4 linked regions of the Homo sapiens genome follow. The protein of the gene in region 4 purifies or fractionates together with the protein of the main gene of each other region. This does not show direct contact. Each region holds a gene or a part of one and is shown on either strand. Other genes may lie near its edges.

Region 1 (9,682 bases), on a different chromosome or scaffold from region 4:
TCTCAGACTGTCTGAAAAGCTATGGGAGCAGGATTTTCACTTAGCGCTGGAAGGGCCTGCATCTTGAGCTGCAGCCAAGACCCCAGAACCCAGGAGAGCCATCTTCAGAGGAAAAGCAGCATCTGCTACGGTGTGTAAAGAAACGGCTCTGCTCACTCACTTGGTTGATTCTTAATGGGATCAATACAGTCATTTCGGAGTTCCATGCAAAAACCTGACCAAATTAGGGAATTAAAAAATCAGGAAGCCATGATGTCTATTGCAAAGGGAACACAAGGGGGCTTCTGGGGTTCCAGTAATGTCTGTTTCTTGATCTGGGTAACCCAGGCGTGTCCGTTTTGTGAAAATTCGTTGAGCTGCTCATCTTTGATTTGTGCCCTTTCCTCTCTATATAATACTTCAACCGAATTTTTTAAAAAATTAATGTCAAGAAGACAAATCTGAATTTTGTCACTAAGTGCTAGTAGTGTAAAAACGAGTAAAGGCAGGGAGCCCTTCTTCATAGCAGTACGTGGATGCGTCTGTTTTCTCCATAAATAGATGCAGCTTGTATAAACCCTCTGAGGAATAGGGCGCTGAAAGGATGATCAGATGAGTAACAAAGCAGGAAGATAATTACGATCCGAAGGTGATTGCTGAACCATCTCCCAGCATGGGGCGCTGCCCACAAGTGGATGGCCATACAAAGGCAAGCCCTGAAAACTGTTGTACTGAAACCTTCCTCCCATCATAGGATGTTAGCCAACCCTGCACTAACATCATGACAGGGTCAGAAAACGAGTGACGCTGCAGTACTGGTACTTCTGTCACTTATGAGTGCTGTGACCTTGAGCCGGTTCTCTTACCCTTCCTGCCTCTCTGGGCCCCCAGCTCTAAAACGGGGTTGATGATCCCTCTCCTAGCACCACCACATCGAATGGTTATGAAGATTTTGTAGATAGAAAAGCACCTCCTAATATATTCCTATTTCCCAGAAATGCTACTTACAAATAATTTTTTAAAGAAAAAAATCCAAAGTCATTGATTCCCACAATAGCCACACCCAAAGTCAGTATGTGTAAAATTTTTCCAGGAGAAAATTGTGCAAATAAACTAAATTAGAACAGATTAGACCAAAGGCCTATATAGTCTGAAAATGAAGGGTTATTGAGATGCTCAAATAAGACATTTCACTACTGAAATATCTCTTGTTCTTGAATTTTTTGGAATAAAATACTATGACTTTCTGCTCACATTTTTTTTCTTTTTTTTTTTTAAGCTAAAAGGGAAAATCAAGTGCTTTAAAGTTAAACAAAAGAACCAGGTCTGCAACTCCAGTCCCCACCCTGCAGCCTTTTGTTCTGGGGACAAGTGGCCGTTTCCAACTGCAGAGGCAGATGACAAGCATTTATTTTTTCATCTAAAACAAGGTTTTTCTTTCGTCTTTTATTGGGGAGGGGGAGTGGGGAACGAGGGCTGCGTGAACGCCCTTTGTCCGCCTCGGGCTGCCGTAGAGACCGCAGTGCGGACTGCACCACGCCCACCAACCGGTGTCTCCCGGAGAAACGCTTCAGCACCACCCCAGGAGAATAGAGCGCGGGCTGGGGCTGCGGAGGGACCCGGCGACCTCTGTCAGGAGCGAGGGGAGGGCCGGGACGCCAGGGATAAAGGGAAAGGCAGAGACCAGAGCTGCCCACCCAGGGACTCCCAGGGCAACAAAGCCAGGCAAACTGAGAGGTGGGGGCGCGCGGCCCCCGCCAGCCCGAGGCCCGGGCGGAGCGCAAGCCCAGCCAGCCGTGCCCGACGGGGGCGCCGCAGTGTGGGGGGGCAGGTGTGGCGGGCGGTCCGGAGGCACTGCGGCAGCTCGGGTGGGGCTGGGGGCGGTCTCTCTGTGCGCCCGAGGCTGTGCCCGCCGGACCCTCACGGCCCCGCCCAGGGTCCCCGGCGTACCGCTATTCGGCCTCCGCAGAGCGCGCCACTGGTGCGAGCACCGGGCGAGGAGCTGACCCTACCCGCTGACGTCTCCCTCACCGACCCCCTTCAAGCTACCACTCCCGAGGCTGGGACTTCTAAAAGCAGCAGCCCCACCCCGCAACTTGGGGTCCCATTGTCCTTTCTGAGAGCTGCAGCCAAGGCCCCAAGGGCGGTAGCGAGGCGGGCTCTGTCTGGTGGCGAAGCGCAGGCGGTTCTGCATCCCAGCATCTCCCCGGGGAGGGGGGGGCGGGGGGAGCGGGCGTGGCCCTAGGACTAGCCTAGTCATTCTGAGGAAAGAAAGGATCGGGAGGTTTGAAATCAGAAAAGGCGTTTCTCAGGGGCTGAGGTAGCCGTGGTGAGGATGAATCCCACGCGGGCCCTGGCACATGGGCTTCGGCCCCAGGTCTGCGGTGGTGGGGGTCCCAGCCTTTTCCTGAGGCCAGAAGAGGACTGAAAGGAGTGGTTGCATCAGGTCTCCCCCACCCTTCTGCCTCCTGCGGTTGCGGCTTTATTGTGGCCTCTGCTCCCCTGACACCTGCATTTCACTTAGCGGGAGAGGCGGTGGCCAACTCAGCACAGGCTGCGGACTCAGCGTGGTGACAGATCCCTCAAGGTTATTGGAGACTCTCCCTCTGGGTCTCATATCTAATAATTCGGATTATTCTTAATTAGCCCAGAAAGGGTCTGGACCAAGTATGAGAGGTGACGAGGAGAGGCATGGGTGCGGGGCGCGCGGGAGGAGCGCAGTGACCGTCGCGCCCTGGGTGGGGTCGTGTTTGCGCGTCTCCCAGCGCGCGTCTCTGGGGGCGCGGGGCCACTTACCGAGCTCGATGTTGCCGATGGCACGCCGCAGGTGCTCCTCGGTCACGATCTCGCCGACGACCACCAGCAAGTAGAACTTGCTGTCAAGGAAGCGGTGCGACAGGCTAGGCGAGGTGGACGCCGCCGGGTTGGCGATGCTGCCGGACGGCTCCGGCTCGGTGGCTTCCACCACCACGGTCGCCATCCTGCCGGCTGCTGTGCCTCGGCGAAGTGTCTCGCTCCGGCCGCTCCTCTCCACTGCGGCAGGAGAAAGGATTATCTCCGAAGGTACTGTCTCCGCTCCGCCCCCTGCGTCCCCCCTCCTCTGGCGCCGCGCGCCGCCTCCCCCTCCGCCCTCTCCCAGCGCCGCGGAGAGTGCGCGGCGGAGAGGAGCGGGGAGTGAGAGAGGGCGGGGAGGCGGCGCCGCTTTTATATGGAGACTAGGCAGGGAGCCGGGAGGAGGAGGAAGAGGAGGAGGAAAGGACCACCCGGCACATCCTCACGCGGTGGCTGCCTCCGCTCTTCCAGCCGTTGGCCCGGGGCTGATGTCATCTGCAGCAAATCATCTCGCCCGCGGCCCGGAAGCTGGAGGGACGAGGTGTGCGGACAATGGTCGGGGCAGGGCCGCGAGCCAAGGGGCTGGGGCGCCCGCTGAGCTCCTGCTGCAGCCGTGAAGGGGGAAGACGCTCTCAACCTACACCACCCACCACGTACACACCCACTGCCCACTCCTCACCCTCACCCTGTCTGTGCATGGGAATGGGATGAGTTTCCATTTTCGGAGTGGGGGTCTTTTCTCTTGTTGGAGTTGCACTAGTCAGGCCTCTGCCTTGTGTGCTGTGTATGATGTAGCCAGGTTCTCAGGAACTGGGATAGCCACAGTGGGCAGATGCGGGGCTGTGGGTACCCCGCCTAGGAAGACGGAACCTGTCTTTTCTTTGACCTTGTGGCTTTAAGAAGACGAATTTACTGATATTTACCAATATCAATATTTACCACCTTCACTTAAAGAATACATCAAAAATGCAAAACTTAAGCCTACTATTGTTCAGGCCTTGGATTCTACTCTGGCAGGGCCAAGGATGAAAAAGTACTGGCTTTGTGGTGCTCATGGGAAATGAGAGAAATGCAGATGTATTATATTAGATACCAATTTCTTTCCTTAATGTGCTGAACAGATAGTATCAGTAATAACAAAGAATAAAGAGAAGATACTGTCTCTACTCAGCAGGGTTACAGTGACTATAATGTACTTTTCAGTTCCTTGGGGAACACACAAGCAAAATTACCTCGTGACAATGATGTCTTTTAAAATACCTGTAGCATTGGGAATTTTTATTGCCTTTGTTTGTGTTTAGAAGAACTAAAAAATGTGTTTTTTGTTTTTGTTTTTTTGTTTTTTTTTTTAAGGCAGCCTATTTACAACCGTTTCTCACAAACATACTGAATATAGCTTCTGTCCCAGAAAAGGGGAGGAGGGTGAGGAAAGAGCAAAATGTGCAAACATGGTATCATAGAAGACTGGGGAATTCGAGCTTTAAGGAAGAGGAATAGATGGAAATTAGTCAACATAGCTTTAATACTAGAATGCCTGTTAGTAAAATATAGATGATAGATAGATAGATAGATAGATAGATAGATAGATAGATAGATAATCACCTAGATATTCTTAAGATTTCCAAAATAACCCAGTGTCTTAGGTGTTAGCTGCCATGACTTATTGGTCATGTACTCTTTGCTCTTATATCTTTCCTGACACCCTGGCATGGGAGACATGCTGGGCAGCCAAGGGCTGGGGGGTTCCATCCAACATGTCAATCTGATCAATGCAGAATGAAAATACCGTCTGGCCCGCAGTATTTGGGATCTGTGACAGGATCACTAGAGAGTTGCATTCACCAGTAATTAGATGAAGTGTTTCCAACTAGCTGCATTCACCAGTAACTAGATGAAGTGTTTCCAGATAATATTTTGGTTAAGATATTCAATTGCTGTTCAAGAAGTAAGGCCAGCACCAAAGCCCATAACTGGGGTGAGGGGCAGGAAATATGGTGAAGAGCACTGTTTTCTAAAGGTCATCCGTTGGATTCCAGCCTCATCTAGTTTGTGTTTGGTTTTCCTTTCTTTGAACCATTGTTACTTTTATGTATGTAATAGTTTTCTTTTATGCAGTTTATTTCTTTTACTTAAATTTATTTTTAAATGCAATTCTATGTTGCTGTATAAATGGAAACACTAATATCACTTATTAATAGAAAGTATCCCTAAAAATATACACAATGAAGATAAGATGTGATCAAATTCCTGCTACATACTGTTATGATTTGCTCAAGACTCTGAGTCCAAGGCTCTCCTTTCTTGGTTGAAAACAGAGATTGGCCAAGTGTTAGAGAGGTATTAAAGAGATACTAACACCTAACTGAGTTGTTCTCCATGTTGCAACAGAAGATTGGATGAAAATTATAACAGAGCGCTTTCTTACTGTGTGTGTCTGTGCAATTAAACACCATGACCGTGACCACCTAAGTCATCACCCACACTTTGAAAAATAGAGGCATAATGGGAGAACACAGACTAGGGATGCAGAATACTACTTTACAGCTCGGTAACTTTGGCAAGTGACTTACTCTTTTTGATCTTCCATCTCCTTATTTAATGAGAAGAAGAACATCTTTATAACTGTTAAAGTAACTGTAAGAAAGAAGGAAATGATAGAATGTGTAAGCACCTAATACAGTGGCTGGGCATAGTAAGCAATCAAGGGATGGTTGATTCATTGACCTGTTTTCTCCCAGTTACTAAGACAATGGAGCAAAAGCAGTCTTATAAAATGTGCAAGTGATACTGCTACAACACCTCTGAAACAAGAACAGAATATTACATTATTATACTTCAATACTAGAAAAGTAGCCCCTTCCCCTCTTCATCCCAAGAAAATGTATACAGTTCTAAGGAGGAAAAAGGGGGAAAACTAACATATAAGAGCACCAATATTGCCAGCTGCTCAACTGACATCACCTGGATATACCAAAGGCACCAGAATCTTGACATGCTCCAAACCCAAATCATCTTTTACCTCTAAACGGGATCCTCTCTCATTCTTGTTATTTCAATGAACCATAACACCATGTATCCCATGATGCAAACCAAAACCTCACAAATATTTTGGACTCTCCCCTGACCCTTAGCCTCGTGTGCAATCCAGCATGGAGTCTGGTCAATTTCACCTTCAGTATCTCTTCAATCCATCCACGTTTCTCCATTATCACCAACCTAGTCCAAGCTAGCATCATTGTGATAGGTACTAGTGTACCGGTTAGAAAATGGGTTCTGGAGTCAGACTGCCTGGTTTTGAATCCTAATACCATAATTTATTAGCTGTGTGGCCTTAAGCAAGGTGCTTAACCACTCTATACCTTGGTTTTCTCATTTGTATAGTAGAGATGAGTACCGACCTCATGGACAGGAGGACAGTTTAAATATGCAAATTACTTAAAACAGTGCCTTGCATATAATGAGCACTTAATAGGGATTAGTTGTTTTTGGTATGGGGTTAGTTGTTTTTGGCTGTTATTGTTTAACATTTTACTATGGAAAATTTCAAACAGAGAGAGTATAATGTAAGTAACACCCACATACCCATTATCCCCAATCCATAGATTTTTATAGTTTGCTTCTTTAAATCAAGATTGAAATAATGTCTATATATTTCAACTGATTCATCAGTCTTAAACTCCTTTGATCTATGTAATCCTGCTATTTTTTTCCTTGTAATTTTCTGTTGAATAGTGGCAACATTGTTCAGCAGAGTTTCACAAAGCATAAATTTTGCCGATTGCATCACCTGTTGTGTTATTTAACATGTTCTTCTATCTTCTGAATTTTCTGAGAGAACTAAAGTCTTGATCAGATGCAGATTTGATATTTTTTACATGTATACTTCATAGGTAATATTGTGATCTTCCATCAGAAGGCACCTAAAGACTAGTTAACCCTCATTCTGTGATTTTAGCAGCTATTGATGATCATTACCTAGATCCATTATTTCACTATGGATTGAAAAAATGATAATATTCTAATTTTGTTATTATTTATTTGACAGCTAGAAGACTTCTGTTAGGAGAAGCGTTATCCTGTCAGTTGATTACCCTGAGGTACGGTATGTACAGGAAAAGAAGGATAAACAAATGATTTTTTCTCTTTATTTACTGATTTTCAAAATAATTAATTTATTCCAAATCATTCTCTAAAGGTGACTAATTTTTTGTATCATTACAAATATAACTTACATTATTCATATTGATGCTTTCATTTTTTCATCTTTGGCCAGTAGTATGGTAAGGTATCCCTAGCTTACCTTGCACATATCTGGCCTCAGAACCTGGAATGAGCCGTTTCTCTATGGAATCCAAGTTCCTTACGTGGGTAATGGTATTTGGAGACCCCTGTATACCAGGTGCTACTACTATTTTGATCATTGTTTCTAGATATTTTCAGTGGACAGAAATATGAAATAAATTGTTTTTCAAGTATGAGTTCATACTTATACCTCTAACTCAGAATCGGGACTACAGGGATTTTGCCTAACGTTTTATCTTGCATCTGTATTTCCTTTGTCCTATGCCTAGAATTCCAGTTTTCAAAGACTCCAAGGTGACAGAATTAGAACAGCAGATAGTTTCTCATTTTTCTTGTTCCACAATATATACAAATTACCCTCATGGTAGTTTTAGATACGAATGCAACACTTTTGCCAACAATGTGATTACTAAAAACATTTTAAGGTATATAGTTTTTTTGTTTGTTTGTTTGTTTGGTTGGTTGGTTGTTTTTTTTGTTTTTGTTTTTTTTTTTTTTTTTTTTTTGAGACCGATTCTCACTCTTGTTGCCCAGGCTGGAGTGCAGTGGCGCCATCTCGGCTCACTGCAACCTCTGCCTCCCAGGTTCAAGCGATTCTCCTGCCTCAGCCTTCTCAGTAGCTGGGATTACAGGCACCCACCACCATGCCTGGCTAATTTTTGTACCTTTAGTAGAGATGGGGTTTCGCCATGTTGGCCAGGCTGGTCTCAAACTCCTGACCTCAGATGATCTGCCCGCCTCAGCCTACCAAAGTGCTGGGATTATAGGTGTGAGCCACCGTGCCCAGCCTAAGCTATATAGTTTTAAAGTGTAATTAATTCTGTTATATATGATCGTGCCACTAACTCAGTGCATAGTTATGTTCATTTGTTTCATTTTGTTTTCAGTTTTTATGAATTGATTTTTACAATTTAATTTTGCTTTATAGTAATGTAAAATATTTACATGGTTCCAAGGTGAAATCTACAAAACAATTTGTATTTGGAGAACTTTAGCCTCTATCCCTGTCCCCTCCAGCTTTCTCCCTGTCTCTTCCTGTGAGTAACAATTTTTTACCTTGATTTAGCCTTTCACTTTAAAAATGCAAGTAGCAGCATATACATACAATTTTCTCCACTTTGCTTATTTCATCAAACACTATATCCCGGCTATAACGCTACAATAATATATGTTAATATTCCTCATTTTTATTTATAGCTGCATAGTAACCCATTATGTTTATTTACTATAATTTACTCAACCAGTCCATTGTTGGTGAACATTTGAGCTATTTCCAGTTTAATTTATATTGTAAACAGTAGGTCTAGCTATTTTTTTTTCCCATGCAACCTCAATAGTCACCTTACTGGCATCTGTATATCCACAATGACTCACCCAATCCATGCTTCACACAATATGGAGAATGATCTTTTCTGATCTGGTTTTGTTGCCCCATCTCCACTTAAAACACAAATGGCTCCCCATTTTAGAATAAAGACCAGACTTCTCAGTGTCACCTACAAGCTGGTCCCCATTTATCTCAGCAGCTTCATCTGGCCCCTCCACTTGCCCTTACTTTCCAGCATCAGCCACAATGACTTTGTGCCAAACCATCCTTCCCTCCAACACAGGCTTTCCCTTGCTTTTCCTCCTGATGAGAGCACTACTTTTGTCCATTTTCTGTTGCTGTAACAGATTACCACAGACTGGGTAATTTATAAAGAAAAGACTAGTTGAACTCTATGCTCCACAGGAGCAAAGAACATGTCTATCCCCACCCCCACACACCCTTTTCACACCCACCCAGCCACCCATATACCTTAGCATTCCTCTTGCTCAGCATAGGGCATATGCTCAGTCAAAGCATATTCAATGACTAAATGAATGGCTTCTATGAGCCATGGTAGTGTGCTAGGTGCTTAAAGTACTTCAGTGAATTCCCACTGGTATTATTTATATTTTTGATGGCTTAAAGTCTGTATTGATGTCTCTTTCTCATTTCTGATCTCGATAATTTGTATTTTCTTTGTTTTTTTCTTGATCAGTCCAGCTAGGGGTTTATCAATTTTGTTAATCTTTACAAAAACCTACATTTGACATTATTGATAGTTTTCTATTTTATGTATGTGTATATATATTTTCATTGAAGCTGTTTTTATCCATGCTGTTTTGCTCCTAATTTCTTTGGGTTTTATCTTACTTCCTATTGTAGCTGCTTGAGAAGCTTAAGTAATTAATTGTCAGTTTTCCTTCTTTTCTGATAAATACATTTAAGGCTAAATATTTCTAACTCCTGCTTTAGCTGCCCTGTACACATTTTGATGTGTTGTGTCTTTATTGTCATTATCATTCATTTCATAACATTTTCTAATGTCATTGTGATTTCTTTTTTGCCATTAGTTATTATTATTGCTGTTTGACAGATGAAAAACTGACATGGAGAAAAGTTAGACAATTCCTCCAAATCACAAAGATAGTAAGTTGAAAACTTGTGAAAAGAACTCTGCTATGTCATATTTCAAAGTCTATGACCTCCCCTATATGGTACCTTCACTGATGCTATTGAATTTAAAGCAAATAAAGGAAATGA
Region 2 (6,447 bases), on a different chromosome or scaffold from region 4:
GGAAAAATTTAAAAGTAGGTCATCCTAAAATGTTTTGGAGTTTCCTAGGGCTCTAAAATAAAACAATGCCCATTCCTCTTAATTCTCTTAAATATATGTGTGTATTTGTGTACATACACTTAAATAGACATAGATATAATAGGATATAAAGTCTAACTGCAGAAAATTGCAATGTGAGTGGAACACTTGACATATTAAAAGGAGGACTCTCGAGATTGAATTAAGAGTGGTTAACAGGCCTCGCTGAGTTAATTTGCATACATTTTCTAATTTAGCAAACTGAAGAGAAATCATCTTCATAGGTTTCTTGTCCATGTCATGTAGGTGGTTTTGCTTGGATGACAGCAAATCAGTCATTTGATTCCATCAAATCAGGCAAGATATCGAACAGGTTAGTAAAAAGAAAAATAATTAGGAAAAGAAAAAAGGGCAGGGTGTTTCAGTTGATCAACTCACACAACTGTCCCCAACAGACTCCAGTATAGATTTGCTGAAGCATATATTGTAAATTCAGTTCTTCATTTTTTAATAATCTTTGTATGTTTCATACTTATCGTTCTTTTTATAATCTTATAATTTGTATCCAATTATACAATTTATTATTATTTGTAAGGGCTCAACAGGGTAGAGACAAATGACACTTTGAGGCATTACCTAGGGTACAAATACCATTTTTAAAAAGGAATGGAAGCTTTCCAGAGACAATATACCTTCTGTGACAGACATTAGTGAACTCATCAGCTTTTCCTGTTCTCTCCCCTCCAGCTACGTGGTGATGCTACTCTTCCTGACTCCCTCGAAGTTAGGAGTGTCCATGTGACTAATTCTGAATACTGGGTTGTGGCCAACCAGACATGTATCACTACTGGCTGGAGCTAGTATGAAACTCTCCAGCTCCCCTTCTCCTTATTGTGGTGACCACAGATATCTCAGATGGTTGAGGCCCTGTCAGCAGGTCCCTGGGTGTGGATGATAGGAGCAGGGCGCCCTGCCAAACTGGGGTGGGCCTGGAGCAAGAGTGAGGAATAACCTGTATTATGTGAAGCCGCTGAAGGGTGAGGGTTGTCAGCACTGCATAATCTAGCCTGTCCTAACTAATATACGTCCCTTGCTTGGAAAATGCAGAGTCCAGGTCATGAGTTTTAACAAAGATACAGAAACGAAATATGCTGGGTGGCACAGTGAAATTTATTTGTCTTTATGATTTACACATAATAATTAAACACACAAAAGAAAAAACACTGTCAAGATGGCCATATGTAGCTTAGGAAATGACTGGTCCCAATGCAATCATATAAATGTTCATTCAGCGTAAAAATGAGTTTCTTTTTAATGGTTTTAATCTTTTTTTTTTCAGTCCCCAAGGCTTGTACCACTCAGTACAAATGTTTTTGCTACTGGGTTATCATCAGGAACATGATGTTTACCAATTCCCAGGAAATGAATAAAATCAACAGAAACATCCTGTGACAACAGAGCACATTTTCATAGAAATGAAATTGATGAGCTTATTACAGTTTGAATCAGTTCAGCTATTAGATCTACACATAAAACATGAAACAATATTAACAAATTACATTTGTATTAAGTTTTTATTTAAAAATATTTATCACACTTTTTTGTGCAAGGGTTCCATTGATTTCTTTGGTTTTAAACACGATAGATCTATTTTACCTAAATATATATAGTTCTATTTGTACCAAACATCAAAAATCAAAAAAACAAAATTTCAAAGGGTAAAAATGGAATTATTGCTTCAATATAAAAAAGGCCTAGCCCATTTGAGAACTACTGCCATTATTGCTTTCCTATTTGAAAAACTATCCTGGAAATCAAGGAATGTACCCCATAGCTCCCTGCAGAAAGTATAAATTGGTTGCACATTATCATCATATTAATATGACCCTACCTTCACCAAAGCTATCCTGATCTTGTCCTTAAAAAATGAAACAAAGCAAAATAGCATAAATAAATAAGTTTACCTAAGGGGATACAATAAATAGCCTAGTATACTAGATAGGAATAAAGAATATTGTAACATAAAGCCCTTCAGTGCTGTACAATGCAACAATAGCTTTGGATTTTCAAGGTTTAGAGACCTTGAAAATCCATTTCATAACAGTTTTATTACTGGTATGCAGCTGACAGAACAAGAGAATACACTTCTTTTGTTCTCCTCATCTTAGAGTGAATGCACAGCAGATACAACTGTCAATTCTGCCTTTTGGGAATTTACCTGGGCATGTACCATTGTCACTTTTTGACCTCTGCCTAATTGTAGGGCAAAATCTTAGGATTAAAAATATCCAAATATTCCTTCAATTCCTAGTGGTTTCTTGGTCTCCAGAATAGTTAAAAACAGAGAGGAAATTAGACTCAAAAGTTTTGCTGCCTTCTTTTCTTTGCATCCATCGCATCCAGAATGGGCTGTCTTTTCGCAGTGTATCTCTGACGAAGTTCTTCTATCTCCCGTTCCATCATGGGGTCCAGTGCTTTTAACCGCATCTGTAGTTCTTCTAAACTTAGATTTTTCAACTAGATACAGAAAGAAAGATACCAATACAATGAAATTATCCACATTATCCACAATCAATACAATGAAATTAGACTTTAATGTCTAATGAGTTTTAACATAAATATTTCAGCAAATTCTTTACATCATCTTTGAAGTATAGTTCAACAATTAAAACAGGAATTTCTTCCTTGAAGAACTCAGAGGTCATATCTTGCAAGAACCTCCAGTAATCTGCAATGAAGCAATCCGATCCTCTGCCTTTAATAAAGGGCAAATGAGAAAAATACGCTGATGGAATTTGTAAAAAGGTACAAAGACAAATCCACCACTGCCAACAAACAGATTTTCAGAATATGTTCCAGGTATATTCACTCTAACTTTTTACATCTTTGCCAGCTACTGAGTGCTACAATAATCATGAACACTTGCAGAGATCACTCAAGAATGTGACAAGACTGAATAAAGGTTAAATTAACCATTCTATCCTCCATTTTACTAAATGCTTAATAAAGAAGATGACTGTGGTAGGGGGCGGGAAGTAAGGCTGAATAGGCCTGGTGGGGCCCCAAAAGCAGGAAGCCATGATCAATTCTGGAGTAGGACAGTTATGTAAGAGTAATCCAGATTTGGTTTTCTTTTCTTCTTCTTCTTCTTCTTATTTTTTTTGACACAAGGTCTCAAACTTCTGGGCTCAAGAGATCCTCCTGCCTTGACCTCCTCAGTAGCTGGGATGTGCCACTGCACCCAGCTCAGGCTTGGTTTTAAAATGATAAAACTTGCAACTTACTTTTTGTTTTAAGAAGATAATTGCCTTTGGTTATTTTATGAGTCAAGCTAGGAAAAATACTCATTACTTATAGTCATCCAAAGTAGCATTTCTCAGCAGATCCTTTTACTCGCCATCCCTGGCCCTATCGTGACTTCTGCTTCCAAAAACCAAATTCACTCTTAGCTGAAAAAGACTCTGAGGATACTGAAAAGAATGAGTCATAGACTCTCTGAAGGAAATTCAAAAAAGGAGTTCCAAAAATATTTTGAGAAATGACAGTGTTATGGAGAAGAGTATGCAGGCTTCCATGATGATGACTTTGAAGGTGAATGCCACTCACTTCGGTGCATAAGAAGTTCTGGTATGTATATTAATAATCAGCCCTGTTATTTTGTAGTCATATGTCATGAAAGAACCTAGCTTTTAATATTATGCCATAAAACATACATTTATATATCATATGTAGTATTATACACTTTCTTCATTGATTTTTAATCCAAGTAGTGATCTTGCATCTGTTACATGCTCAGTGCTGTTCAAATCACTGTGGAGATACAGAATAAGACAAACAGGGAAACTCCAAACTTTGAACTGTACACATCGGTAATGGCCACATTGAAAGGCCAATGTATACCACACAACCACATTTCCCAAGAAAGACATGCCCAACTATGTCTATGTAGGATCCAGTTCCACTTCTGTGTTCTTCAACATCATCTCTATTTCAGCCCATGTTAATCTTTCCCATTTCTAAATTTCTATGTAACACTCATAATTTAAACAACACAATTTAGTATTTGATTCTAAATCATGTACTATTTTATAATTGATTTTTATGCATGAGTTTCATGTCCCTAGATATTCCAAAAAATACTTAGACTTTAGAGACTGTACATACACCAAGAAACTATCCTACTATACTGCAAATAACATGACGTAAACGTAGATAGATAAATATGAATAAGAATATATGACCCAAAGGAGTGGGTTACTCTAAGATCAGAAGAACTAACATATTATATAAAGCAAACAATTATCATTACTTTAATTCTGAATTAAGATATTCCTGTAAATATCTTGTACTACTTTTACTGGGGCAAACTGCCAATAGGTTTATAAATATTGTATTGCAGTAATAGACTGAACTCAGAAAAAGAAGCTACTTAGAAGAAAAATTTTCTTCCTTTAACAGATTTTTATATTATCAATGCGTAAAATTTGTGAAAAACAGGTCTGTGATATTAGAGAAACATTATCTAACATTATTAAGGAATTAGGTGTTCATGTAAGTAAATTAATGAAGTACCTAAATCTTAGTTCTTTAAGTGATAAAACTTTGTCTCAATATCACATACACACACATATACACACACACACACACACACATGTGCACACACACATGTATTTACATATGCTCTTTTTTGGTTCTATGTGACTTTTAGGATTTTTTTCTAATTTTGTGAAAAATGATGTTGGTATTTTGATAGGAAATGCACTGAATCTGTAGACTGCTTTGGGCAGTAAGGTCTTTTTCATAATATTGATTCTTCCAATCCATGAGCATGGGATGTATTTCCATTTGTGTCATGCATGATTTCTTTCAACAGTGTTTTGTAGTTCTCCCTGTAGGGATCTTTTACCTTCTTGGCTAAGTATATTCCTAGGTAATTTATTGCTATTACTATTATTATTATTAATTATTTTACAGCTATTGTAAAAGGGGTTGAGTTCTTGATTTGATTCTCAGCTTGGTCACTGTTGGTATATAATAGTGCTACTGATTTGTACCACTGATTTTGTAACCTAAGACTTTACTGATATGGTTTGGCTGTGTCCCCACCCAAATCTCATCATGAATTGTAATCCTCATAATCCCCATGTGTCTAGGGAGACACCTGGTGGGAGGTGATTGGATCATGGGGGCAGTTTCCCTCCATGCTGTTCTAGTGATAGTGAGTGAGTTCTCACAATATCTGATGGTTTTATAAGGGGCCCTTCCTTCTTCAATCTCACTCTGCTCTCCCCTCTCACCACGTGAGAAGGTCCAGGCTTGCTTCACCTTCACCTTCCACCATGATTGTAAATTTCCTGAGGCCTCCCCAGTCACATGGAACTGTGAATCAATACACCTCTTTCCTTTGTAAATTACCCAGTCTTGGGTATTTCTTTATAGTAGTGTGAAAATGGACTAACACAGTTAACTGGCACTGAGGTAGTGGGGCGCTGCTATAAAGATACTTGAAATGTGGAAGCAACTTTGGAACTGGGTAATGGGCAGAGGTTGGAATAGTTTGGAGGGCTCAGAAGAAGTTAAGAAGATGTGGGAAAGTTTGGAACTTCCTAGAGACTTGTTGAATGGTTTTGGCCAAAATGCTGTTAGTGATATGGACAATGAAGCCGTGGCTGAAGTGGTCTCAGACGAACATGAGAAACTCACTGGCAACTGGAGCAAAGATCACTCTTGCTATGCTTTAGCAAAGGGACTGGTGGCATTTTGCCCCTGCCCTAGAGATCTGTGAAACTTTGAACTTGAAAGAGATGATAGGGTATCTGGGGGAATAAATTTCTAAGCAGCAAAGTGTTCAAGATGTGACATGGGTGCTCTTAAAAGCATTCAGTTTTATGGATTCACAAATAGATGGTTTGAAATTGGAACTTATGTTTAAAAGGGAAGCAGAGCATAAAAGTTTGGAAAATTTGCAGCCTGATGATGTGATGGAAAAGAAAAACCTGTTTTCTGGGGGAGAAATTCGAGCCTGCAGCAGAAATCTGCGTTAAGTAATAAGGAGCCGAGACAATGGGGAAAATGTCTCCAGGGCATGTCAGAGATCTTGCCAGCAGCCCCATTTCATCACAGGCATGGAGGCCTAGGAGGAAAATTAGTTTCATGGGCCAGGCCCAGGGGCCCTGCTACTCTGTGCAGCCTTGAGACATGGCACCCTGCATCCCAGCCATTTCAGTTCCAGTCATGGCTAAAAGGGGCCAAGGTACAGCTCGGGCCATGGCTTCAGCTCAAGCCTTGGTGGCTTCCACATGGTGTTGGGCCTGCGAGTGCACAGAAGTCAAGAATTGAGGCTTGGGAACCTCTACCTAGACTTCAGAGGATGTAATGGAAATGACTGGATGTCCAGTCAGAAGTTTGCTGCAGGAGCAGAGCCCTCAA
Region 3 (7,901 bases), on a different chromosome or scaffold from region 4:
TTTCTGTGAAAACAACAGCTACAGATCTAAACCAATCTTGAGTGAGTGACTCAAAAATCACAAGCATCGCTGTCACTGATGATGTGGTTTTCTGAAATGGAGAACAACTCTTAGTAAAGGTCCAAACAAAACAAACTACAAGTGTCTCTCCATTCTTCATAGTTCATTCTTAAAAAAAACAAAACAGTAAAACCATATAAAAAGTACTTTGTGTTTACATGTAAATGAACTTTGGTTTAGTATCACGTTTATAAACAAAATTTTCACCAAAATTAATAACCAGTGGAACATCTGAATGTTGTGTTGGACACCGGACAGATGTTTGTTATGCAGGACTGTCCCAGAATGCACTGCAGAGCATCTAGCAAACCTGCCCCTGCCCATTAAATGCTGGTAAGGCTCCTCAATCACTATCACCACAAAAACACTCTCATACATTTCCAAAACACCCCCTGGTGGGCAGTACTGCACACTGTAAAAGTCCATATGTCTATAGAAAGGGTACACTATCATTTACCTAAGAGTGTGTGTGAGAAGACAAATGAAGTCATCTAAACGGCTCTGCATTGTGCCTGGCAGATAATAAGTGCTTAATAAATATAAACTTACTTCATCCTTCCTTCTTTCCTTCATCTGGCCATAGGTTCTCAGTGTGATCAATAAGGAACATCTGTCATCAACCCTGGCTACAGGAAGGAAGGTACACTAAATATTTCAAGGAGTGAGGTGAGTAAGTTAGGGAACAATAAACGCACTTATCACCCCACTCCAAGAAAGGCCCACAGAATAACATGACAGTTATATACACAGACTGTGGAACTATTCTATTAAATACTGTAGAGCAATTTCACTCAAGAGAACTACACTTACTTTTCAATGTAACTCTATTCCCTCTCTGCCGTGGGGTCAACTTTTAAGGCTGAAAAAAAAACCTAGGGTCAGGCTGGAGAACTATTCCTGGATAAGAATGGGCCACACCAGGGCAGGAACCTGCTGTTCCACCTCTGAATGCTGGGCCACGTCTGGCCTGGCTTCGTGCAGCAGCAGATGAGGATGAAGGATTCCAAGGTGATCATCTCACACTAGAGGCTTTATACAGGCGGGCTCTTCTGTCCAGGATGTCTTCTCTCCCTCACTTCCTACTCTTTATTAATCTAGCCATCTCTTCTTCATTTTTAAAGTTTCAAGGTATATTGTCTCCTCTAGAAGAGTTTCCTTGGACATCCCAGCAGAACCGTCACTCCCTCTTCTGTGTATCCACAGGCCCTGTACCTTCTTCTACCATGGTATGTTCAATGTTGTGTGTTTTTGTGCTTGGCTAACTCCCCAAATGCCCTGCAAAAACTGTATCTGGTTCATCTTTATTATATTCCTGATAACTAGCTCAGTACCCTGGCACATAATAGAAGCCCAACAAAAGTTTACCAACCTCTCCCCAGCTTTGGATCTTAGAATAAACACACCACTGAGTCAATGTCACAAAGATTGTTCACAACACCATTATCCAGGCTATATATTGAGGTTCTCGTTAATAAGGGTTTGTGGTCCAAAGGACAGTTTATTTAAAACAAACGTGATGAGGTATAGGAAGAAGAAAAGAAGGAGAACAACAATTCTAACATAAAAACACAGGAAGCATCTCAAACTTAAAAAAGAAAAAAGGAGTGGGGGCAATGGAGGAAGCTATGTCTCATACAAACTGCTGACCTCAATTGATTACTTACATCCAAACCTTACAAAATAGCATTTCAAGTCAGCACTTAAGCCAGTGTTATTAGATTTTCTTACAAAAAGTTAAAGCTACAAACTTCACATTTTTAAACTGTACATAGCAAAAACATTTAAGCTTTTTTTTTTCCAAGTTGGTCCGAGTGCAAGCTGGTAAAAGAGATTTTTTTTCCAAACACAAACAAGAACATGTATTCCAAAGACAATGAATATAATACTGATAAAAACACAAACATAGTGCTTAAGAAAAGATGGGGTGAGGTGGAGATGTAGATTGGGCAGGAACAATTTTCTAGTAAATAAGGAGCTGCAATCTTTAGAGGCAACATGGTATGCTAGAAAGGACACTGGAATAAGAATCAGAAGACCTGGATCTGAATCATGGCTCTGCCATATTCTAGCCACATGACCTTGAGCAATAGACTTTACTTCTCTGAGCCTCAATTTTCACATCTGTAAAATGAGGATAATAATACCTATATCTCCCAGCACTATTAAGTTTCTATAGATATAGGGCTATTCAGATTATCTACTTCTTCTTTTTTTTTGAGACGGGGTCTCATTCTGTCACCCAGGCTAGAGTGCAGTGGTGAGACCATGGCTCACTGCATCCTTGACCTCCCTGGGCTCAGGTGATCCTCCCACTTCAGCCTCCTGACAAGCTGGGATTACAGGTGTGCACCACCATGCCCGACTAATTTTTTTTTTTTTTGATGTTTTGTAGAGATGGGATTTTGCCATGTTGCTCAGGCTGGTATCTATTTCTTCTTGAATGAATTTTGGTACTTTTTATTTTTCAAGGAATTTGTTTATGATGTTGAAGTTGTTAAATTTATTAGCATAAAATTATTCATAATATTCTATTGGCTTTTTAATACCCATAGGATGTATCATGATGTCGCTTCTCTCCTTCCTGATATTTAAAAGACTTACTGAGTTTTAAATGGTATAAATTTCTGGCATCTGGCAGGTGCTAAATAAATGTTTCCTGGATCGAAATCTACAGTCTCAAGGAGTCAAGGCTACAATTCTTAAGTTGCTTCAGATGACTGGTTCTATCTATTTATCAATACATCCATCGATCCACTCATCCACTCATCCATGCATCCTCCTACCCTTCCTCTTCCCCGTCAAACATTCATCCATCCAATTGGTGGCTTGGGGAAAGGGACAAAAAGGGGAAAAAAAAAAAAAAAGGAAAGTGCTTCAAAATTACTGATGGAGCAATTAAAACAGTCTTAAAGAATTCTGAGATTTTTGGCCAGGCAAGGTGGCTCACGCCTGTAATCCCAGCACTTTGGGAGGCCGAGGCGGGTGGATCACAAGGTCAGGAGTTCAAGACCCACCTGGCTAATATGGTGAAACCCTGTCTCTACTAAAAATACAAAAATTAGCCGGGCGTGGTGGTGCAGCACCTGTAGTGGCAGCTACCTGGGAGGCTGAGGCAGGAGAATTGCTTGAACCTGGGAGGCGGAGGTTGCAGTGAGCCGAGATGGCGCCACTGCACTCCAGCCTGGGCAACAGAGTGAGACTCTGTCTCAAAAAAAAAAAAAAACACAAACAAAAAAAGAATTCTGAGATTTTTTTTTTTAAAGACAGAATCAGGTCATTGTTTCTTGAAGGCAGAGAACAAGCGAGGACCTCAAATTTCTCTGGAAGCTCGAGTTCCAAATGCTCAAGCAATAACAGAAGCCCAAGGCTCATTGAAAGCAAGCTGACATATCTTAAATTTAGTATTCAACAACAACAACAACAACTAGGACTTGTTCCTTTGCCTTTCTGTCACTAGAAAACAAATATACCTTGTCAGGAAATTTCTCTGATCCAAAACAAATTGACTTCTGGCCAAAAGGCTTCATCAAGCTAGACTGGTAAGCAATAGACTTTGTTGGATCAGCAAGCTGGGTGCACACATTCCTGAAACAAAACAAACTCCAGATCAAAGTTCATGACCCAAGAATAGTTATGGGGGAAAACTGAACTTTCTTTTATTTGGATCTAGCTTAGGAAGGGAGAAAATGGGCTTTCTCCTCCTCTCTGGCCAAGTGCAAAGTTCTTTGTTTAAAAAAGAAAGAGAGGCCAGGAGCGGTGGCTCATGCCTGTAATCCCAGCAGTGTGGGAGGCTGAGGCGGGTGGATCACCTGAGGTCAGGAGTTCAAGACCAGCCTGACTGACATGGTGAAACCCCGTCTCTACTACAAATACAAAAAAATAATCTGGGCATGGTGGCATATGCTGTAATCCCAGCAGAAGAATCGCTTGAACCCGGGAGGCGGAGGTTGCAGTGAGCCAAGATCGTGCCATTGTACTCCAGCCTGGGCGACAAGAGCGAAAATCCATCTCAAAGAATAAAAAGAAAAAAGAAAGAGAGAGAGAGACAGAACTATTAATTCGCACAGCAAATGGTGCAGGGGTGTGCATCCTGGATGCTTTGGTTTTTAAAACTTACTTGGCTATCAGACTTAACTACTAATTCAGCTGTCTTTCCAACCTAAAAATGCCAGTTCGAGTTATTTAGTCTATGCAAGAAAAGGTGGTCACTTCATTTTAAACAGGCTTGTGACTTTCCTTTTTTGTGTAAATATTGACCCCCTATAGTGATGCTATGAATCCTGATTCTATCATTTACTAGCTGCATGACCTTGGGAAGGAATCTTTCTCTCTGAACTTATTTCTTCAACTACAAAATGGAGATAAAGTAGTTAAGTCACAGGGTTATTGTGAAGTTTAGAGCCTACCCAGCTCAGTGCCTGATATATAATAGGTGCTCAACAAATGGTAGCTGTCATTTATTATTCCAGCAAGATCCTCAAATTGTCCTCTGTTTTCCGTATCCGCCACATAGCTATTTCAGTTGCCAAGCCCTGAAGACTAACAACTGCCTCTTGCATTTTTTAAAAACTTGCTTTAATTGCAAATAACAGAATCTGGCCACAGAAGAGGCACATTCCCTGCCTTTCCATTGATTCCCAGGTTTCAGGAGCAAAAGCAATTATGGAGTCAAATTACAGTATCCTGAGGTGCAACCCAGTCATGGCTCCCCATCTGAGGGAAAGAGGTAAAGTTGCAGGAAGATGGCTCTATGCTGTCTTTTGCAAAGCCCTCTGATCTGCTTCAGGCCCGAAACCTGCCTCCATGGGTGCTTGTCTGCTATATCTGGTAGATGTTGTGGAGCTCAAGGACTCGCTGAAACTGAATGATCTGGCTCGTCCAGGGAATCTCTTTACAGCCAGGTCATCTACTGAAGAGCCAAGGCAAGAGCAAGTTTCTGTTAGCAAGGTTCCCTGGAACAATTAACCAAGACTGACACAGGTCTCTTCCCCCAAAGAAGGGGCTGCATGGTTCGGTGGCCTGGGAGTGAGGACCCTGAATTCTAGTCTCAGCTCTTAACGCTAACTTGCTTTGTGATTTTGGCCATTCCCCTCTCTACACCTCAGTTTTGCGATCATCCGTACAAGAGGATCAGATCAGATGATCTCTATAGTCCCTTCCAGCTCTGACATTCTGTGTGTTCAGATTGAGCCTCCTGGAAAACAAATCTTAGTCTAATATTCATTTATCCTTTCCAGGCTGCTTAGCAGTAAAAGAGAAAAGAAAACAGTCACATATTTGAACGTGGGTCACAAAAGCAATCCCCTCTACCCCTGTGTGTAAGGAATGTGGAGCAACATGCCACGTGTATGATTTTTACATGAACAATGAGAGCTTCAAAAACGCTTTTCCTTTGTGGACTGAACACAGTCCCGTGTTTGCTGAGAGTCCCTGGTAGAGATCATGTCTCCTCTTAAGGCACTGGGCAGTATCTGTGCTGTGACTTTAGGCAGTTGAGAGAGTGGAGATGGATGAAAGGCATTGAAAGAGCAAAGGCCAATTTGCAAAGAGGGTGCCAGGCTTCTCCTGGGACTCAAAGAGTAAACATAAACTCTCAAAGCTTTCCCTTGGACATCACCAATAGCTCCAGAAGCCAGTGATGACCACACAAGGCTGAAACCACGGTACAAGAACTGTCCCAAACCTAATTTTTAAATGCAGCCCTGCAAAGGGGGAGGTTGGCTCCTGGGATTCAGTGACCCCCTAACAGCCTCCCGGTGTCCTCTGCCCTCATGTTCCACAGTACCATAATCTTACAGAAAAGAGGCAAACCGTTTAAAACTGTACCTGTACAGAGATGCCACCACACTGCGTGGGGAATCTATTTATAATTTATATATATATATGCATATTTATATTTTTTTAAAAGTCTTCCAGAAAGAACAATTGAAAGCTATTGGGAGAAGAAAAACAGACAATGTAAAACTTTCCCAGCTATCACTCAACTAGGAGTCTCTGTTCCTGGGGTTTAAAACTCTGAGTTAAAAGCGCCAATATAAATCCTTTGAGATAATATACCTGACCAATGTACATACACACATCAAGATGGCACGCTGACTGTCAAGAGAGCCCTTCCCACTGGCGCACATTCCTGAGTTCACAAAGGTGCTGTGGAGAGACGACAGAGCAGAAGTGCTGGCTAACAAACATGAGGCAAGCCATCCAGAATTCACCCAAAGCCTGGGTGGAGCTGGGGCCCTCACAGCCTGGCCTTGCTCAGAAGTTTTGTTGCCGTCTCTTCTTAGCCTCTATGGCATCCAGGATGGGCTGCCGCTTGGACTGGTACTTCTGCCGGATCTCTTCAATCTCCTGCTCCATCATGGGGTCCAGGGCCAAGAGCCTCTTCTGAAGGTCCTCCACTGTCCAACTCTTAAGCTAGAAGAGAAGTGGAAGGTATAGTCACGACAAAGCTTAAGTCAGTGGCAGAACAGTGCAGAAGCCCAGCCTTCCCAGGCACCCAGAGGGAAGGGAGACAGGAGGAAGACACTGTGGTCAGATCACAGGTTGAGTGGTGGTGGTTGGAAAGTGACAATTCATTCCAAAGCATGGCATACCTTGAAGCTTGTCTGAGATAATTTATCCCTGGAAGAGATCTAAGTGCTAACCGCTTTGATTTAATGTGCCTTGACCAAGAACTTAGTGAATAATACTCTCACCTCCCCTATCTTTTAAGTTAATTAAATATAGATTCATTGTTAGGGCATTAAAATAACAGTAACTTGCTGTATGTGAAATAATGGTTGCCTCCCCGTTCTTGTTCTGTCTACGAGATAAGCGTCTATCTGGACAGCGCCTTTCCCACTTTCAGGATACGACACCATGGAGGATCGATGCTGATGAGGCGCAGATGCCATCCCCTAACCCTGCCTTCCCACACCCCCAATGTCTTGGCACTGCCCTATTATCATCACCAGCATTTACTTGAGGCTACTATATACCAGGTAACAGTCTAAGCCCCTTGGGAATACAGACGCAACCCTTGGCAGGGGTTGGGGTAAGGGTGGGTAGTTAGAAAAACCTCAAACTTCTGAGATTAAGTTTCTATCATCCAAAGAAAAACAATGAGTTGATATATAAATTAATAATAATGGCTGGCATTTAGTGTTTTCTATGCACCAGACACTGAGTGCTTTACATATATGGATTCCTTTAATCCTCAGAGCAACCCATGCTACAAGGACATTATTATCCCTATGTTACAGATGAACAGCCCAAGGAGGAGGGTAGCTAAGTAACCTGCCCAATGTCTCCCAACTAGTAAGTGGCAGAATCAAGACTCAAACCCAGGCAGCATGGCTCTAGAGTCTATGCTCTTAACCAGTGTTGCAGAACAGAAGACTAGCAAAGCACAGGTTTTAGAAGTAACTCAACCTTTGTTTAAAATGTGGTTCTGCCTGTTGCAGATGCCATGAGACTCTGTCAAGTTACCAATCTCTCCAGGCCTTCCCCATCTACAGAAGTCAGACAGCAGTGTCTCATCACATGTATTGTAAGAATTAAATAAGATCACGGCTGTAAAGTTCTCAGCACAGTACCTGCTGCACTGTGTGTGTAAAGATGGCAATGGGTGTTATAAGCCTCTCTCTTCATAAAAGCCCAGGGATACACCAGTGTTCAACCTGTGTCTGCAGCTATGGGGCAAGGGACTCTGCTGCCATGTGTGTTCAGTGATTCCAAGCCTGGCCAATATTGGCTGTCAGGGGTGGGAATGAATGCTGACATTATCCACAGTGGGTGGTGATACTTTATTCTGTGTGCTCACAACCAGTTTAATAGGTACAGTGTTTCAAGAACTCAAAGTC
Region 4 (7,425 bases):
GCAAAACCCCATTTCTACTAAAAATACAAAAATTAGCCGGGCATGGTGGAACATGCCGGTAATCCCAGCTACTCGGGAGCCTGAGGCACGAGAATTGCTTGAACCTCGGAGCCTGAGGTTGCTGTGAGCTGAGATTGCACCATTGCACTCCAGCCTGGACAAGAGAGAGAAACTGTCTCAAAAAAAAAAAAAAAAGAAAGAGCCCATAAATAGAAAGAAACCTCCCTGATAACGGGACAATTGAAATAAGAACAAGTAGGCAGCAGGGGTCACTAGACAGTTTGGCCAAAACAAGAAACCCAGGGGAATCATCCTCATGTATAAATGGTGACCCCAGAAGAGGTCCATCCTTACCCTGGCAACGGAGAAAAGGCCATAACTTGAGTGCCAGCTGATGGGGAACTGGGCAGGGCTGGCTTTGCACTGCTGTGTCAACTCGCCTAGGCTGGGGCCTTTCTCCCAGGACTCCCATCCCTGTTAAGTTTCCGCTGCAGAGGTGTGGAGGGTGGGTAGGTGGAAGTGGGAGGTGGCTGGCTGAGCTTAGCGATCTTGGCATTGCTAGCAGGCATTGGACAGGAGGTGGCAGGCACAGGCATGGCTCCTCTGCTCCACCTGCCCTTCCTGATCACCTACCCTGTGACCGTAAGACCCTGTGAAGGGCCAGGCATATGGTGGCTCACACCTGTAATCCAGCACTTCGGGAGACCGAGGCGGGTGGATCATCTGAGGTCAGGAGTTCGAGACCAGCCTGGCCAACCTGGTGAAACCCCGTCTCTACTAAAAATACAAAAATTAGCCGGGCGTGGTGGCGTGTGCCTGTAATCCCAGCTACTAGAGAGGCTGAGGCACAAGAATCGCTTGAATCTAGGAGGCGGGGGTTGCAGTGAGCCAAGATCGCCCCACTGCACTCCAGCGTGGGTGACAGAGCAAGACTCCATCTCAAAAAATAATAAAACTGTATCTGCAAAGATCCTTTTTCAAAATAACATCACATTCACAGGTGTCAGGGGTCAGGTGTTGAATGTGTTTTGGGGGCTGGCTGCCATTCAACCCAGTACAGATGACATTGTATCTAATAGTAAACCTAAGTGCTTGTATTTCTGCAGAGAGGGGTCAGGGTGCATTAGTCAGAAGTGGATATTCTGTAATCTCTGGGTTTCAGATTCCTCTGTAAATCCTTCCTGCAGAGTAAGACTTTCTGGAATAAGCATCCATCTCCTCTAGGGACAGCAGGATAGCTTTTGTTTGATGGCTTTGGAGCAGAGACAGGTATTCAATCTCCCCCTGCCACCAACTGGTTTGTGTGACAGATAGTCAGGTAGCTACTTCGCGCCTATAACTTGGGCCCCTCACAGTTGCTGAGTCGGGATGGAGGCCATAGTCAGGAGCTCCACCGGTCAGTGGTCATTAACTCTGAGAGGCACTTCCTTCCCCAAACCAGGCCCAGCGAAGCCTGCATTTCTCCCATCTGCGACATGGAGGCCAGAGTGGGCCTGACCGCAGGGTCACTGGGGATTCCATGGAAGCTGTCCCCACCCGCAGGACCAGGAGGTACATGCCAAGTCTCCCATCACAGAAAGAAGAGAGGCCACAGCCAAGTGTAGTCACAGTTTATTTCTGATGTGGCTGAATCTAGGGACAGGCGGGCTGGGCTGAGTGGGGGGCGTGTCGGCGATGGGGCTAGAACTCCACCTTGCAGGCCGGGAAGGCGTCATCCTGCATGGACACCATGCTGTTGCTGCCCAACACCGTGATGCCCAGCGCCTGGTGCCGGGCGTGCGTCTCTGCGTACCACGTATGCATGGCCACCGAGTCGAAAGTGGGGATCAGGGTCACCTGCAGGTGGAGGGGGGGTGTGTGGGGAGAGTGGACCACCAGTGAGGGGGGTGCCCCCTGCCCTTCTGGCCTGGGCCCAAGTCGCCTTCCTTTCCTGGCATTTGAGACCCCTCCTGGCTTTTCCCTGATCTTGTGTGCTCCACCTTGAGGTCTGCAATGGGTGGTCAGCCCGTCTGTGAGGTCCCTGTTCCTCCCAACCAGCACCCAAAGAGCCTTCTCAGCACACAGGAGACGGAGCTCCTCCTCTGCAAGGCCTTCCTTGGCCTGAGACCCCTCTCTACTCACTTGGATCTCCCCCTGCTCCTTGAACACACCAACCTCTTTCCTACCTCTGGGCCTTTTCCTGGGTCGTGCACCCTACAGGGACACTCCTTTGAAGCCAGCCTAGCAGCTATGAGAGGGCAGGGGCCGCGGTGTGAGGCGGTCCTCCCTCTGCCCACATGCACCTCGCCCTGCAGGGCTTGGTTTCAGTCTCTCAGCTTCATGCAGCCATGGGGGAGGGTTCTCAGCCGCACAGATACCACCCAGCCCACCTATTCCATCCCGACTAATTCTCACAGCGGAACAATGGCTAAGTGACAAGGTGTCTGGGGAAGGGATAGAACCATGAGGCTTCACGAGGCCCTGCGTCCTCCCCCAGGCTTCCAGCACAGCCAATGACAACAGTGACACGACAGAATCAGAGTCCGAAGAGACCCCTAAGGGCTGAGCCATGTGAGACTCCCACATTCGCCCCCATTCCCGTGTGGCCTGGGGAACACAGCTTAGTCTCTGAGGGTCGAGGGTGGTTTTACCCATCTGTGCTAACTACACTTACCACCAGAGGCCCTGGGGTGACACGCACCTGCAGGTCACGGTCCCAATGCTGCTTGCTGGCCAGTAGCGCGTCCAGGACGGCCCGCATGCCTTCCTCCTTGCGCTGGTCCTGGCCACTGATGACGTAGCAGAGCGCGCGCACGCGCTGGAAGAACTCCTCATCCACCAGGTGGGCGCTGCTCCCGCTGGGCAGGTAGGCCAGGTCCAGGTAGACCGGGGACTTGGGTGGGGTGGCTGACACCCCGGGCCGGCTGCTGGCTGACCCTGCGGGCGGGGGGATGGGGAGGCAGGGATGAGCTCCTGGGGCTGGGGAGGGGCCGAGGCTCCAAGTTCGACCTGCACCACTCAGAGCAGCTCCCTCCTCAGCAGGAGGCCTGAACTCAGAGTTTTCTGGGGAGGCCTGGTGCGCTCATGACTCCAGTGAATCTTATTTTAAGAAATGGGGTCTCGCTATGCTGCCCAGGCTCGTCACAAACTCCTGGGCTCAAGTGATCCTCCTGCCTCAGCCTTCCAAGTAGATGGGACTACAGGTGCATGTCACCACGCCTTGACTCCAGTGACTCTTCACTCACTCTACAAACACCACCGGCCACCCCTTTGTGCCTAGAGCCTGACTCATCCCCAGCCAGTCCCTGGACATAGACATCCCCAGGGCTGGGGGGCGAGTGGGTGGCAATCAGGGAATGCTTCCTGGAAGAGGGTTTAAGAGTTTGAGCCCTGAAAGCAGCCAGTGCCTGGACCATCTGCTGCTTCTGCAGCATTTGTCTGGTTCACTTGCTCAAGGGGCATTTAACAGAACCTCATGGGCACCAGGCCCTGAAACAGGGCTGTGACCAAGACAGACAGAATCCCTGCCCCAAGGGTGATGGGGAGCCAGGGTGGGTGGACAGAGCCTTGAGAGGCGGGCCCAAGATCACTGCGGGATGCTGGATGCGGATGAGACAGCAGCTCTGGGGGCCTTGTCCAAACCCTGACCTTAGGGCCAAAGGGGACAAGGCCACCAGCCCTGGGCAAGTGAATGATCAATGAAATGAAAGGATACGGCTGGGTCTCGGGCACAAGAAGCCTGCCAGACCCTGCATCTTACAATCACAGCTGCTGCCCAGCTCAGGGGGTAAGAGTACTACCCCGTCTGTATACCAACAAATGCATACCCTCAGCCGAAATGGACACATTCCTAGAAACACAAAAACTACCAAGACACAATCACAAAAATAGAAAATCAGCACATACCTGTAGCTAGCAAGGAGAATGAATCAGTAACTTACGACCTCCCAACAAAGAAAAGCCCTGGGGAAGCCACTAAACATTTAGAGAACTAACATCAGCCTTTCTCAAACTTTTCCGAGGAACTGAAGAGGAAGGAACACTTCCTAACTCATTTTATAAGACCAGAATTGTCTTAATACCAAAGCCAGGCACAGATATTTAATTCTACAAGAAAATGCCAGTTCAACAGACTTTATGAACAATAATGTAAAAAATCAGGCCTGGGGGTGCAGTGGCTCACGCCTGTAATCCCAGCACTTTGGGAGGCTGAGGCAGGCAGATCACTTGAGGTCAGGAGTTCAAGACCAGCCTAGCCAACATGGCGAAACCCTGTCTCTTACTAAAAATACAAAAATTAGCTGGGCGTGGTGGCAGGTGCCTGTAATCCCAGCTACTCGGGAGGCAGAGGCAGGAGAACTGCTTGAACCCAGGAAGTGGAGGTTGCAGTGAGCTGAGATTGTGCCACTGCACTCCAGCCTGGGCGACAGAGTGAGACTCCATCTCAAAAAATAATAATAAACGAATTCAGCAAAGAAGCAAGGTACAAAGTCCACAGGCAAAACACAGTTGAATTTCTATACATGAACAATGAACAATGTGAAAAGGAGATTAAACAATCATGAAATAGAAGAATCAAGATAGAGGACTCACACTTCCAGATTTCAAAACTTACTACAAAGCTACAGTAATCAAAACAGCGTGGCACTGGCATAAAGACAGACATATAGACCAATGGAATACAATAGAGGCCCGGAAATAAATCATCACATGTATGCTGAAATGATCTTCAACAAGCGTTCCAAACATTCAATGGGGAAAGGATAGTCTTTTCAACAAATGGTGCTGGGAAAGCTGGGCTTCCACATGCAAGAGAATGACACTGGATCTTTTCACCACATACAAAAATTACCTCCAAATGGACCTAAATGTGAAATGGAAAACTTAAAACTCCTGGAAGAAAACATGGGGTAGAAGCTTCTCACTGTTGGATTTGACCAGGCATGGTGACTCACATCTATAATCTTAGTACTCTGGGAGGCCGAGGCGGGCAGATCACTTGAGGTCAGGAGTTTGAAACCAGCCTGGCCAACGTGGTGAAACCCCGTGTCTACTAAAAACACAAAAAAAATTAGCCAGGTGTGGTGGTGGGTGCCTGTAATCGCAGCTACTCAGGAAGGCTGAGGCAGGAGAATCGCTTGAACCCGGGAGGCGGAGGTTGCAGTGAGCCAAGATAGTGCTCCCATGCTGCAGCCTGGGCAACAGAGCCAGACTCATCTGAAAAAAAAAAAAAAGAAAAAGAAAAAAGAAAAAAAATCGATGTGGCAATCATTTATTGGGTCTGACATCAAAAGTGCAGACAACAAAAGAAAAAAATAGACAAAATGGACTTCATGAGAATTTAAAACTTTTGTGCATCAAAGGGCACTATCAAAAGAATAAAAAGGCAGCTCACAGAATGGGAGGAAATATTTGCAAGCCATTTATCTGCTAAAGGATTAATGTCCAGAATGATTTAAAAAACTCCTAAAACTCAGCAACGGAAAACAACTCAATTTAAAAATGGGCAAAGGGGGCTAGGTATGGTGGCTCATGCCTGTAATCCCAACAGTTTGGGAGGCCAAGGCGAGAGAATCGCTTGAGGCTGGGAGTTCAAGATCAGCCTGGGCAACATAGTGAGACTCCATCTCTACAAAACATTAAACAATTGGCCAGGCACGATGGCATGCACCTGTGTAGTCCCAGCTACTTGGGAGGCTGAGCTGGGAGGATCACTTGAGCCCAGGAAGTTGAGGCTATAATGAGCTGTGTTTGCACTACACTCCAGCATGGGTAACAGACCGAGACCCTGTCTCTAAAAAGTAAAACAAAATTTTAAAATGAGCAAAGGAATTGAATAGACATTTCTCCAAAGAAGACAGACAAATGGCCAATAGGCATATGAAAAGATGCAACATCACTAATCATTAGGGACATGGAAATCAAAACCACAATGAGATCCCACCTCACACCCATTAGACTGGCTAGCGTCAAGCAGCTGCTGTGGAAAACAGTCTGGCGGTTCATCCAAAATTAAACGTTGAGTCGGGCGTGGTGGCTTATGCCTATAATCCCAGCACTTTGGGAGGCCGAGGCCAAAGGATCACTTGAGTTCAGGAGTTCAAGACCAGCCAGGGCAACATAGTGAGACCCCAGTGCTACTGAAAAATTTTAAAATTAGCTGGGCGTAGGCTGGGCACAGTGGCTCACGTCTGTAATCCCAGTACTTTGGGAGGCCGAGGCGGGCAGATCACGAGGCCAGGAGTTCGAGACCGGCCTGACCAGCATGGTGAAACCCCATCTCTACTAAAAATACAAAAATTAGCTGGGCATGGTTGCGCATGCCTGTAATCTCAGCTACTTGGGAGGCTGAGGTAGGAGAATCGCTTGACCCCGGGAGGTAGAGGTTGCAGTGAGCTCAGATCGCACCACTGCACTCCAGCCTGGTGACAGAGCAAGACTCCATCTCAAAAAAAAATTAGCTGGCCGTTATGGTGCGTGTCTGTGGTCCCACCTGTTCGGGAGGTTGAGGTGGGAGGGTTGCTTGAACCCAGGAGGTCGAGGCTGCAGTGAGCCATGTTTGCGCCACTGCACTCCAGCCTGGATGACAGAGTGAGACTCTGTCTCAGAAAAAAAACAAAGAACAGCACAGCAGGCCAGAGACCCTCCTCTCAGCAAGGCCTGCTTAAAATGTGAGCCTTTGGCTGGTCTCTGGGAATTTGGATCTTAGGCAGAGGGTTCCCACCATTCCCTGTCTGAGAGGGGCTCCCTGTGCCTGGACTGGACCACACACCTGATTTCTCCTTTTTGGGGAGTCTAGAGTGTGGGTGCCAGGCAGAAGATGCCTATGTAATGGCCCAATAGGAAACCTGGGCATGCTGTGTCTAATGAGCTTCCATGAGGGACACACTGTTACAACTTGCTACTGGAGAAATGAAGCCTGTGGTGTGCAGCCCCACTGGGAGAGGATTCTGGAAGCTTCTGCCTGGTTTCCTTTGGACTTCACCCTATGTGCCTTTTCTCTTTGCTGATTTTGCTCTGCTATGAGTGCAACCATAGGCCGGGTCCTCCTAACCAATCAGTTACATAAAATACGCTATTTAAATTTTCAACTGTTTCATTTTACTTATTGTGGCTTCTAGAAACCCACAGTTGGCATACGTGCTCACCTGTCCAGGCACCTCAGAATGGCAAGTGCTTCAACACTGAGGTCAGTTTCCATTTCACAGGAGAAACTGAGCCCCGGAGAGGTGGGCACGGCTGAGGTCACGAAGTAATTACGAACAGGAGGACTTGGCTGGGTGCAGTGGCTCATGCCTGTAATCCCAGCACTTTGGGAGGCCAAGGTGGGCAGATCACCTGAGGTCCGGAGTTCGAGACCAGCCTGGCCAACATGGTGAAACCCCAACTCTACTAAAAATACAAAAATTAGCCAGGCGTGGTGGCAGGCACCTGTAATCCCACCTA

The links.
Region 1: the proteins of MAP1S (region 4) and MAP1B purify together in Homo sapiens (affinity purification with mass spectrometry; 2 studies listed by BioGRID and IntAct, with this or other methods). This does not show direct contact.
Region 2: the proteins of MAP1S (region 4) and STK3 purify together in Homo sapiens (affinity purification with mass spectrometry; 3 studies listed by BioGRID and IntAct, with this or other methods). This does not show direct contact.
Region 3: the proteins of MAP1S (region 4) and STK4 purify together in Homo sapiens (affinity purification with mass spectrometry; 3 studies listed by BioGRID and IntAct, with this or other methods). This does not show direct contact.

Annotation. Positions count from the first base shown.
Region 1 is NC_000005.10:72,100,809-72,110,490, reverse strand, and holds the start of MAP1B (microtubule-associated protein 1B), read right to left. Parts: upstream 3,017-9,682; 5' UTR 2,960-3,016; coding exon 2,776-2,959; intron 2,567-2,775; exon of another isoform or gene 1,897-2,566; intron 1,717-1,896; exon of another isoform or gene 1-1,716. UniProt on the Homo sapiens protein: Facilitates tyrosination of alpha-tubulin in neuronal microtubules. Phosphorylated MAP1B is required for proper microtubule dynamics and plays a role in the cytoskeletal changes that accompany neuronal differentiation and neurite extension.
Region 2 is NC_000008.11:98,453,466-98,459,912, forward strand, and holds the end of STK3 (serine/threonine-protein kinase 3), read right to left. Parts: intron 3,829-6,447; coding exon of another isoform or gene 3,826-3,828; exon of another isoform or gene 2,774-3,825; coding exon of another isoform or gene 2,720-2,773; exon of another isoform or gene 2,536-2,719; coding exon 2,377-2,535; 3' UTR 1,168-2,376; downstream 1-1,167. UniProt on the Homo sapiens protein: Stress-activated, pro-apoptotic kinase which, following caspase-cleavage, enters the nucleus and induces chromatin condensation followed by internucleosomal DNA fragmentation.
Region 3 is NC_000020.11:45,073,591-45,081,491, reverse strand, and holds the end of STK4 (serine/threonine-protein kinase 4), read right to left. Parts: intron 6,475-7,901; coding exon 6,316-6,474; 3' UTR 1,471-6,315; downstream 1-1,470. UniProt on the Homo sapiens protein: Stress-activated, pro-apoptotic kinase which, following caspase-cleavage, enters the nucleus and induces chromatin condensation followed by internucleosomal DNA fragmentation.
Region 4 is NC_000019.10:17,728,684-17,736,108, reverse strand, and holds the end of MAP1S (microtubule-associated protein 1S), read right to left. Parts: intron 2,917-7,425; coding exon 2,681-2,916; intron 1,843-2,680; exon of another isoform or gene 1,837-1,842; coding exon 1,681-1,836; 3' UTR 1,596-1,680; downstream 1-1,595. UniProt on the Homo sapiens protein: Microtubule-associated protein that mediates aggregation of mitochondria resulting in cell death and genomic destruction (MAGD). Plays a role in anchoring the microtubule organizing center to the centrosomes. Binds to DNA. Plays a role in apoptosis.